Linked DNA regions of Homo sapiens. The protein of the gene in region 2 purifies or fractionates together with the protein of the main gene of each other region. This does not show direct contact. Each region holds a gene or a part of one and is shown on either strand. Other genes may lie near its edges.

Region 1 (4,334 bases), on a different chromosome or scaffold from region 2:
AGTTGATACTCCTAAGTTCACTGAACAAAGTGATGAAAGAAAAGGATGAGCCCAGGGATTCTAACTCCCATGGGCAGACTTTGAGACTCTATTCAGATTTCAGCCATAAGAATTAGACATCTGTGGCCCTGAAACCACAGATACTAGTAATAGTGACTCAAAGAGTAGAAAAAAAATCACATTTCAATACTGAATCATTTTCAGGTCTGTGGTGTATAACTACACAACAAGATTCTATTATAAGCAATAGCATGTTCCTTCCACTTCAAATTATAACCCCCATCAGTTCAATGGTAAGAATTTTTAGTAAATACAGTGGTGGGTGTATTCTTTTTGTGAGCCTAGAAGGGCTCACTTGCTTATCTGGATGCTTTAGCCAGTCAAGGATATAGATAAGGATGCCATTGATATGAATTTGTGAGATTATTTTATCCTAGTCTCACTTCTTAGTGAGTAGACAGAACTTCAATTTCTAACATTTGTTTTATGAAAATTCCTCAACTTACCTATAAAAAAGGTGTAATCAGCTATTATTTCCTTTTAGTAATAAGATTACATTGAAACTACTATAATACTTTAAGATAATAGACAGGAATAATATAATCATCTTATGACATATTAGTTTATTACATGCATAAAACTATAAATGATAAAAATGAAGAATGTAATGAACAGTTTATGTTTTTTTAAAACAAAGTCAGATTTTAAAAGTTGTACACGGAGAGCAAAAATCACTTTACGTACTCATGATTGGCTTTAATATTTCTTTACACTATACATACTGAAAATGTTTACATTTACTAATAAGGAATGCCAAGCGTATCCATCACCATTTGAATAGCTTGCAGGGGATTTGTGATTTCTTCCATGTTATCTCTTCTCAAAACCCAATCTGGCTTAAGTCTGTTAAAAAAAAAAAAAAAGTCTGGCATTAATAAAGTTCTTCTCTTTAGAGTTACCTTCACCTTTTTTCTCTTAACTAAATTGTAGCTACTCCTGAACACATCATTTCCCTTACAAACTGCTCAAAGAGGTGGGAGAACTTCATATTATTGCCCATCACTAGTTCCAGACTATTTCTCTCCATCCTTTCTAAAAAATAATGCTGGCTTCTTTGAAGCTTATGCTATTTAGCTTGACCACTGCCTTTTGGTCATCAGCCAAACTCTCAGTGTCTTATTCCTTGTAAACCTGGTTCTTGTTCTCCTCTTACCTACTGTCACCGTTCTCAGCAACAGCAACATCTATGTGGCCAAAAAGCCAACAACCTAGTCCGTTTTTGCCCCACTTTCCTTCAATTCTACCTCAACCAATCCTTTTTAATATGATCACATACTAGACTTTGTCATCATCAGAAAGTGTGCGACCACTGAAATCTTGAGACTTCCATTCTCCATCCACCATTTCTGATTCATCCATGTCATATGCTCTAACACAGTCATTGAACCAGTTCTTCTACCCCACTGAGATCTCCACTTCATTTGGCCTCAACACATACCCAACATCCACCAGAATGCTGTCCTTACTTTCCTGTGTATCTAGCTCAGGTGCATCAGTATTATCAAAACCTTTGCAAATGCCATTAACTGTTGTCTCTCTCTCCTACCAAACTAGTCTGAAGAATTCTACTTGGATTTCAAATTGAGTCAAAATATCTGCCTTCTCCATTCCTATACAGCTGCATATTACTAAAAATGTTTACACAACCAAGCTGATTTTATTTTTTGCCAATAATTACAAATCTAAAATGAGCATTTGAAATTGCCAGCATGCTCCCTTTCTCTCCAAGATGACTATCTTGGTCCTTTCCTCTTTTCAAACTTCCCCTCCATACCCTCTGAGCTGCTTCTGAGTTGTTGAGTTTATAATCTCAAACTTATTGAGAAAATAGTATCAAACCGAGGGAGTTCATGCATCTTCTCACATAATTCCCTACTATATGCATTTCCATCATCTTATTTTGTCCTGCTAAAAATCCAAAGATATATCAATTGGTGAGTGAACAAAGTGTGGTACGACCATACAATGGAATAGTACTAAGTGATAGAAAGGAATGAAATTCAAATCCATGCATAAACATGAACGAATTTCAAAAGCATTATGCTAAGGAAAAGAATCCAGTCACAAAAAGCTATCTACTATATGATTCCATATATGTGACAGTATAGAAATGGCAAAACTAAAGGTACAAAAATCAGATCAGTAGTTCCCAAAATCCAGGGAATAAAGAAAGAGAACTGACAACAAAGGGGCATAAGGAAACTTTGTGTTACAGAAATATTTTGTATCTCAGTGGTGGTAGTTTCCTAACTGTATACATTTGTCAAAACGAATTGAATTGCATACATTTAAAGGATGCATTTATACTGTCAGTAAATTTTACCTCAAAAGCCTGACCTACATCAAAATTTTAAGAGAATCCATTCATATGTTAGTATGAGCTTTTAAAACATAATGAATATTAAATTCTACCAAGTCCTTAAAAAACATGTAGAAATGGTCCCATTAATATATTTCAAGCAAATGAACTTTACATTATGCTGTGAAATATGCATGCATAAAACCAATTTATAACTACATTATACAGTTTATAATTATGAGTATAATTATAAAGCTAATGGCTGTGTAACCACTCAGGTCAAGAAATAGTGTGTTGTCAATAATGTAGGATTTGTACCTAGTATAGAGAATTGCTAAGTCTCAAGAAGGAAAGAAGGAAGGAAGGGAGGGAGAGAGGGAGAAGGGGGAAGAAAAAAAGGAGGAGGGAGAAAGAAGGAAGGGAGTAAAAACACTAATTAAATGCCATGACGGTTCACCAAAATAAATTAAATCTTTTTGCCAATAAAATCAGAAAATGTCAATCTAAATTTCCAGAAGGAGAAATTTCAAGAATCAGGGTGATTATGGGAGGACTGGAGGTTGATATTTTGGCTAAGAAGGACTTTTGGCACTTCTTAAACAGTGTAGTTTGTCTTTCATGCAAAATAAAATAAATAAAATAAAATGACAAAACTTATAACAAGCTTCTTAGCCTTAGCTCTTAACTATTTAATATAAGAAGTTTGTTGAATAACTATTAAATGTCCAAAGCTACAGTATAATGTTATTTCTTTATTTACCAAGACTGCTTCTTTTAAATTTACCAAACATTCCATTCTTATTCATATGTTGTTTCTCCACTGAAAAGCACATCTTGTTTATGGTAAGTGCTCAATAAATATTTGTTAAATGAATGAATGAACAGTGACACAAATTTATGGACTATATTTAATTGCTTACCTTGAAACTATTCTGGTCCTTACAGGTGTTTCTGGGATAAAAGGAATGCTTATAGAAGAATTCTTCTTTTGCTTGTAAAGTATTCTTTCAGTATTCATTTTATGTTTATGAGCTGTAAGTTTGTAGAGACTGTAAATACGGTCAACAACTTTGGACCTACTTCGTACATCCTACAAAATAAAATGCACAGTTACTAAAAAGTAATAAGAATTAAAATTTTATCTCTTTTAGACTAGCAAAATCAAATATAATAAAAACTATGCAGTAAACCTTTTTTTTTTCTTTTTTGAGATGGTCTCTCTTGCTCTGTCGCCCAGGCTGAAGTGCAGTGGTGCGATCTTAGCTCAATGCAATCTCTGCCTCCCGGGTTCACGCCATTCTCCTGCCTCAGTCTCCCAAGTAGCTGGGATTACAGGCACCCGCCACCACACCCGGCTAATTTTTTTTGTATTTTTAGTAGAGATGGAGTTTCACCGTGTGAGCCAGGATGGTCTCAATCTCCTGACCTCGTGATCTGCCTACCTCAGCCTCCCAAAGTGCTGGGATTACAGGCGTGAGCCACCGTGCCCAGCCTGCAGTAAACTTTTAAGCTTTGAATAATCAAAGAAACCTCACCAAGTTTGGCAGGTAGATTGATTTAAATTACGAGCTAATTTGCAAGGCAATTATAAGGAAGATAAATATTCAAAAGTTGCATACTTAACTCCACACTGAATATAAGAAGGAATTATTATAGTCAACATAGCAATTATAGTCAACACACCTATCATATCCAGTTACCAAGTCTTGAAAAGTTTACCTCTGCAGTTTCCAAAGTCTTCTACTTACCTCTCAGCGACACAATCCTAAGACAAGCACAATCTCTTGCCTAGATCACTACATATCAACACTTGCCACCTTCTTTGATGGTCTCACTATATCCACACATGCTCTCCCAAATTCATTCTTCAATCAGAAGCCAGAGTGTTGTTAAAATTTAAATTGGAAAATATTATTCCCTTGCTTTACCCTGCAGCGGTTCCCACTTACCAGGATAAAGGCCACAGTCCAATTAT
Region 2 (7,291 bases):
GGCGAGAGATGGCCGTGGGTCCTGTGGCACCCAGCCTGGTCCCCACCCCGAGGAATCCAGAGGGCCCAGGGCAGGGAGGGCGCAGCAGCGGAGATGGGAAAGGCCCACCCACAGCCACGCCCCACTGCCGGGAGGAGCGCTGGGCCGCCCACCCCACAGCCTGCGTACCTGACGGGCCCAGGCTCCCCTTCGATGCAGCTCACCACCTGGAACTTCTCCAGGTCCCAGAAGCGGATTGTCCTGCAAAGGCAGCCAAGCTGTGCTGCGAAGCCTATCCCTCATCCTGGCCTCCACATGTCCCTGGGAAGCCAGCTTTTCTCTAGAAACCTCTCCCCCAGGGCAGGGCCACCAGGAGCAACATCTGGGGCAGAGCTGGCCCTGACTTTGCAAGGGGGAGGCTCGGCCCGATGGCCCTGGCCCCAGGGTTGGCCCCAACAGCCACGAGCCTCCCTGCCCTATGGGGTCCCACTAGATGCCTTGGGTCCCAACCTGCCCATGAAGCCACAGACCTGGGACACTGGGGCCAGGGAACCAGAGCCAGGGGAGATGGACCAGGGTCCAGTCCTGGCTCGGCTGAAATCCAATTCAGTCCACACAGGATCATCAGACGTATGACACCCCAGACAGCGACAGACCGGCAGTAGAGACACGCACAGAGGACAAGGCGGTGAAGGACAGCAGTCACAAGCAACTCGCCTCGCTCCTCCTCCTCACCTGTCAGAGCTGCCGGAGGCCAGGAGGTACTCGTTGGGGTGAAACTCGACCACGTTGACAGGCCCCGTGTGACCAGGGAACTCAGACATCATCTTGCCGGCAGTGAGATCCCAGAGCTGGAGGCAGGGCAGGGAGGAGGTCAGGGTGACCAGGCATCTTGGCTGCCCACCCTCCCTCTAATCCAGGCCAAGCTCTTTATCCACAAGCTACCTTCCACTCGGGATAGGCTTGGGACATGTGAGCCCGATCAGGAGGGAGGTGAGGACTCAGCCTGCTGTGATCAGCAGACCCCAGCCCCCAGCCCCTGGGCCCAGGTCAGGCCGGGAGCTACCTTCACGGTGTGGTCATCTGCGGCCGACGCCAACCACTTCCCATCGGGGCTGAACCGGAGACACCGCACGGCCTGGCTGTGCCCCTGAGGGAGGACACGGCATGAGCTCACCCTGGGATCCTGGGCCCAACAGACCTCTCCCTGCCTCCTCACTCCTATGGGACCCCTTCCATCTAACAACACTGGTTACCCGCCTGGTTCTGCTTGGAGCAGTTTGATGAACGTGGCTCTAGGGGATTCATGCAGAGCCAGGGGATCCAGGTGGGCCGCCCATGGCGCTCCTGCTCAGCTCCAGGTCTATGTTTTATGTTATCACCCATGTGGGACAGCCGTCCCCTCCACCCCCTGCTGGGGTCTGGGCACCACACCACACTCAATGCCCGCAAGGTGCTCATGGAGTCACCGACAGAGCGCATCCTTACCCTGTATCGGAAGACACAGCCTTTCCTCCTGATGTCCCAGAGCTGTGGGGGAGAGAGAAGCAGAGGGGCAGAGTCAGGAGAGGTCAGAGCCACGACTGGAGGAAGGTGTGCAGTCGTGAGCAGACGGTGGGGCCCAGCCTTCTCTAGGTCGTTACTCCCCACGGAGACAAGGACAGAAACTGCTCACTAAAGCTGGCATTCTGAGCAGAAGCATCTGGCAGATAGATGCCTGCCACCCGCTTTCCCTAGGATGGTGTGGATGTGGCTGCAGAAAGGGAAGAGGTCCCCTCAGCAGGCATCCAGCACTGAGGGCCGGGCCGGGCTGGTCCTGCCACAGGCCCAGCAGGAGACACGGGGCACGGACCGGCCTCTCACCTTGATGTTTGTGTCCTGGGAACCAGAGGCTACAAACTCGCCGTACGGGTGGAAATCCAGGCTGCAGATGTTGGCTTTGTGTCCCATGAGTGTGCGAAGAACTAACAAGAAGGAAAGCAGAGACAGTGGCTAAGAGGCAAATGAGAAGGCTGGCAGAGGAAGGGCTGCTGTGGGCATTTGTGTGTGCGCTTTTGGATTAGCTGCACAGAAAAATAGAACAATAACACACATTTTTAAAACAGTAGGAAACAATCAAGGGTCCCACCACCCTAACAACGAATTTTCTTTTCTTCCTTTTTTTTGAAAAGGAGTCTTGCTCTGTCGCCCAGGCTGGAATGCAATGGCGTGATCTCGGCTCACTGCAACCTCTGCCTCCCGGGTTCAAGCAATTCTCCTGCCTCAGCCTCCCAGGTAGCTGGGATTACAAGCATGTGCCACCACACCCGGCTAATTTTTTTATATTTTTGGTAGAGATAGGTTTTCACCACGTTGGCTGGGCTGGCCTCCTGACCTCAAGTGATCCACCCGCCTTGGCCTCCCAAAGCGCTGGTATTACAGGTGTGAGCCACTGCGTCCTGCCAACAACTAATTTTCCCACATTTCTCTTGAGAGGTGACAGCCCTATGTTACCTCAAGTCTGCAGAAATTGTACCACACTCTCCCCACAGACTGTGCTCCAGCGGAAGCAGAACCAGGGAACCACCACACTCAGTTCAGGCCCCATGGGTGTGGAGCTTATGGTTTGCAGGGCACTGAACCCCACCCAAGACAGTGCAAGGAGAGAGACAGACCAGGAGAGGTTCAAGCTGGGAGAGAAGCTGCTTGGTTGGAAAGAGAAATCCAGGAAGGCTTTATGGAGGAGGTGGTATTTGAGTAGATGTCAGTGGGTGGAGGATGAGGGATGCTGTTAGGTAGATGGAGGTGATGGGCAAAGGCCCTAAGAAGGGCAAGTGGAGGGCATGGCTGGGGTGGCCCTGGTGCACACACCAGTCTTCTTGGGTGACCTCTGTCCAAGGGATCTTGAGGGTGGCTGTGAGGACACACTGAGGAGCAGTGAGAACTGAGAGGACACAGGGAGGACACGCGAGGACCAAAGAACTCCTGGGGTGGGGCCTGATCGCCTCCCACTGCCCTAGGAACCACATCTCCTATCCTTTCCTTGAAGGTTTTGCAGGCATCTCCATGGCCAGGAGCGGCCCAGCCTGGAGGCAAACCTTGTGTGTTTCAGGGTGTCCTCCAGTACCACTCAGATTTGTCTCATGTTTCCTGCTTTTGGAAAGATTCATAATTCACTATCTGAATGAAACTGACCATCCCAAGTGCCAGGGTCAGGAAATGTGGGAGTCCAGCCATTCTTAGTTTTGAGCCAAGGTGCAATAGGTCACCTTGTGAGGTAGTGAGCTCTCTGTCAGAGGAGGTATTCAAGATTCCATATATAACACTTTACTGCAGAGTCAAGATCCAAGCACTGGGTGAATTAAATGAACTCTACTGTATGATCTTCTCTACCCCCAAAGTCAGGATGTGGGCTCTGGCATCAGACAATACTGGGATCAGCCTTGGCTCCGCTCCTCACTGGTGGTGTGACCCTGGCCAATCACTTACTGTCTTTGGGCCTCATGTTGGGTCACAGAATGGAGTAAACATACATAAAGTGCTTAGCACGGGCTCTGCACATGGTAAGTGCTCAATAAATGCCAGTCTTAATTAGTCCCATTCACATTTCTTCCTGCACAAGGCCTGCCTTCTGCTCTTGGCTGTCCCGCAAGCTGGGCCTTCTCTCCTCCTCCCCAGGCCTCAGTGCCCCTCTGCAGCTGGCCCTGTCTGGCGCTGGAGCTGGGTCTGGATACTTTCACATCCCTCTGGAGTCTGTCGAATGCATATCCAATTCACCTGCACCAGAATCTCTGCAGCTGTCACTCCTTGCTCCGTGTAGCTATCAGGTGCTGCTGGGGGCTGGGCATTGCCTCCTGGCCAAGGAGGCCACGCTGGCTCTTGCTCCAGTCCACACCCGCTCCCAGCCCACTCAGCTTGGATCCCACAGCAAGGCTTCCAAAATCCTGCCCTGCCCAGAGAGGATGTGGCGGAGTCCCACCCTGTGTGGGCTGGCTGCATGAAGCACCGGCCGCCCTCCTGTGAGATCCCGTGGGATCCCCTGCGCTGAGCTACCCTTGCCCTCTGGCTGCGCTGTGGAAAGCAGGCAGGACCACATTCTTCCGGCTTGACTCCTGCCCTTGCTCTTCTGTCCCACGAAGGCCTCTGATGCCTACATTCAATCATGGGATCTAGGAACTGCAGAGTGGAGGGGCTTCCGGGGTCTGTCTGCCCCACACAGGAACCCCCAACGCCTCCCAGCTGAGCACCTCCTCAGCCTACATCTGAACCCTCCAGTGATGGGTGGCCTTTCAAGGCAACCGATATGAGGCAGCTCTCTCTCTCTCCTTTTTTTTTTTTTTTTTAAAAAAATAGAGATGGGGTCTCCTTTTGTTGCCCAGGTTAGTCTTAAACTCATGGCCTCAAGTGATCTTCCTGCCTTGGCCTCCCAAAGTGCTGAGATTACAGGTGTGAGCCACCATGCCCGCAGAGCAGCTCTCTTTGGAACCTTTCCACACCTGGGGCCTCAATTTGCCTGTCTGTCACTGTCACCTGCACTCTGGCGAGGGGGTGTGGAGGGGGGCCGGAGGTCTTAGCTCTACCTGCTGTGCTGATGGCAAGTTTCTCTTCCATCCAATGGCAGAACAGACAACACTGGGATGGGAGTCCTGACACCGGGATTCAAGTCCCAGGCTCTGCTACCTGCAGCTACTGGGGTTTTCCTAAGCTCGGTGCTCTCCCTGGGCCTCTGTTTGCCCATCTGTCAACCTGGCTGTCCATCGGAATCACCTGGAAGCTTATTAAAATCCAGATCCTGGGCCCACCCCAGTACTGAATCGGGTTCTCTGAGGATGGAGTCTGGGCCGTGAGTTCGTAATGAGTTCCTTGTGGAGCAGCCAGCCCTGGCCGTCCAGGGCCCAGGAATCCAGCAATCTTCAGTTTTCATTTCTCAGCCACCTCAAGGAATTCCTCACATTTCCCCTGTGAGCAAAACAATTGTGGATGAGAAAGCCTGGACAGGGGGCACGGCGCCCTCGGCTTCTCCCTTCTGTCTCTTGTTCTTCGGTGAATACTGAATGGCTGGTGCCCACGCGCTGGGATTCAGGTCCAGGGAGCTGCCCACCTTCTGCCTGAGCCTTCCCATCTTCTCCATGAGAGCCCAGCCATCCTGGACTCACTCCTCCCTGGCCCGCTTGAGTTCAGCGACACCAAGCACAGCATGCCCTGGTGTGGCCAGGCAGTGCGATCACGTGCCGAGACGCAAAGCCTGCAGTCCTGTTTGTTATCAAAGAGGTCCTGGGGCTCTTTTGTTCTTAAACTGACCATCACTGAGTAGGCAAGCATCACTGAAGAGGCTGCGTGCATCTTTATTGAGTACCACCTACACAGAGAGCCCACTGTTCCTGAGCAAAGGGAACCTTGCCACTGTGCATGTGTGGCTCATGGCTGCTGCCCTGCCGCCAACATAGAGCATGAACCAAGGAGAGGCCCAGAAGAATCTTGAAGTCTCAGCCAGGCCAGAGGGGCTCTCTTCTGGAAAAAGCAGCCTCGGCAAAATCCACGTTGCTGCTTCCTCTCCAGGGCTTCAGGTAGGTGGCCTCCTGCCTGGCACGCGGGATGATCCAACAAGGGCTATCAAAAAGCATCAGGCAGGCCAGGCATGGTGGCTTATTCCTGTAATCCCAGCACTTTGGGAGGCTGAAGTGGGCGGATCACCTGAGGTCAGGAGTTCAAGACCAGCCTGGCCAACATGGAGAAACCCCGTCTCTACTAAAAATACAAAAATTAGCGGGACATGGTGGTCCGTGCCTGTAGTCTCAGCTACTCAGGAGGCTGAGGCAGGAGAATCGCTTAAACCTGGGAGACAGAGGTTGCAGTGAGCTGAGATTACACCACTGCACTCCAGCCTGGGTGACAGAGTGACACTGTCTCAAAAAAAGAAAAGAAAAGAAAAGCATCAGGCAAACGGGTCTTATTTGGACCTCACAGTGCTGGCCTGCATGGTGTTCTAAAACAAATGTTGAATGAGCTGTCAACATTTTTAAATGGGTGGATTCCACATGAATTTCCAGATTTCCAGCCTCTCTTGAAAAATCCGTAGAGCTGGCACCACCTGCTAAGGCACCAAGGCACATGAATTTCCAGATTTCCAGCCTCTCTTGAAAAATCCGTAGAGCTGGCACCACCTGCTAAGGCACCAAGGCACATGAATTTCCAGATTTCCAGCCTCTCTTGAAAAATCCGTAGAGCTGGCACCACCTGCTAAGGCACCGAGGCACAGCACAGGAGCAGTGGGCGAGACTCTCCGCTCAGCCCAGAACTGAGGGCATGAGTTTCCAGACCACAACCGCATGAAACCAGTGACGACCTAGCACAGGGTGGAAGCAGACCCACCCCAAGGCTCACCACACCAGAACACTGGGACAAAGACCCTAAAAGCCTGCAGAGACAGAGAGAGAGAGGAAAGAAAAGAGAGAGAGAGAGGAAGGAAGAGACAGAACATGGAATGAAGCCAGTCCCCTGTGAAGGATCTGGGATCAGAACAACACCGGCCCCTCCCAATAGCAACCTAGAACCTAAAAGGCAGAAAAGCTGCACCTTCCAAATTCTGAGGGCGATATTTTATTGCCAACATAGAACTCTATACTCAAACTCATAAAACAAACACAAAAGCAAATGATGGGGGTAGCAGAAAGTCATTTTCAGCCATGGAAGTTCTCCAAAACTATGCCTTCCCAGCACATTTTCTCAGAAAGCTACAAAAGAATGTGCTCCATCAAAAAGAGGGAGAAAACCAAGAAAGGTTGCGGCGTGGGACCAGGAACAACAGATGGAGAGAATTCCCCAGAGAAGAGACACAGAGGCCCAGGATGACAGCTGGGCTGCAGGTCACTAGGACCAGAGGAGAGGCTCTGAGAAAAGGCGCCTGGATTATGGGATGGGTTTCAAAGAAACAGGAGGAGCTTTACTCTTCTGGCAGAGAATTTGGGGATGAATGAGTAATATGGACATAGAAAACACACAGATTAAAAAAAAAAAGGAACTATTATTAACTCCAGGGAAACCAAGTTATTAAAAAGAAATAGTCAGTGGTAAATGACACTTATGCGTCCTTACATTATAAACACCACCTATTGAAATGGTGCTACTGGGAGGGTGGGAGGAGAAACACGAGCCATGGGGCTGGGAGTGGTGCCATGAGAGAGCTAAATTCTCATCCTTTACAGTAGGAAGAGAATAACTAATGTGTTAACTTTTTTTTTTTTTTTTGAGATGGAGTTTCGCTCTTGTTGCCCAGGCTATAGTGCAATGGTGCGATCTTGGCTCACCACAACCCCCACCTCCCGGGTTCAGG

What was found.
Region 1: the proteins of KATNB1 (region 2) and ASPM purify together in Homo sapiens (tandem affinity purification; 2 studies listed by IntAct, with this or other methods). This does not show direct contact.

The regions. Positions count from the first base shown.
Region 1 is NC_000001.11:197,083,524-197,087,857, forward strand, and holds the end of ASPM (abnormal spindle-like microcephaly-associated protein), read right to left. Parts: intron 3,450-4,334; coding exon 3,280-3,449; intron 904-3,279; coding exon 801-903; 3' UTR 604-800; downstream 1-603. UniProt on the Homo sapiens protein: Involved in mitotic spindle regulation and coordination of mitotic processes.
Region 2 is NC_000016.10:57,745,479-57,752,769, reverse strand, and holds part of KATNB1 (katanin p80 WD40 repeat-containing subunit B1), read right to left. Parts: intron 1,944-7,291; coding exon 1,843-1,943; intron 1,510-1,842; coding exon 1,468-1,509; intron 1,130-1,467; coding exon 1,046-1,129; intron 831-1,045; coding exon 715-830; intron 241-714; coding exon 169-240; intron 1-168.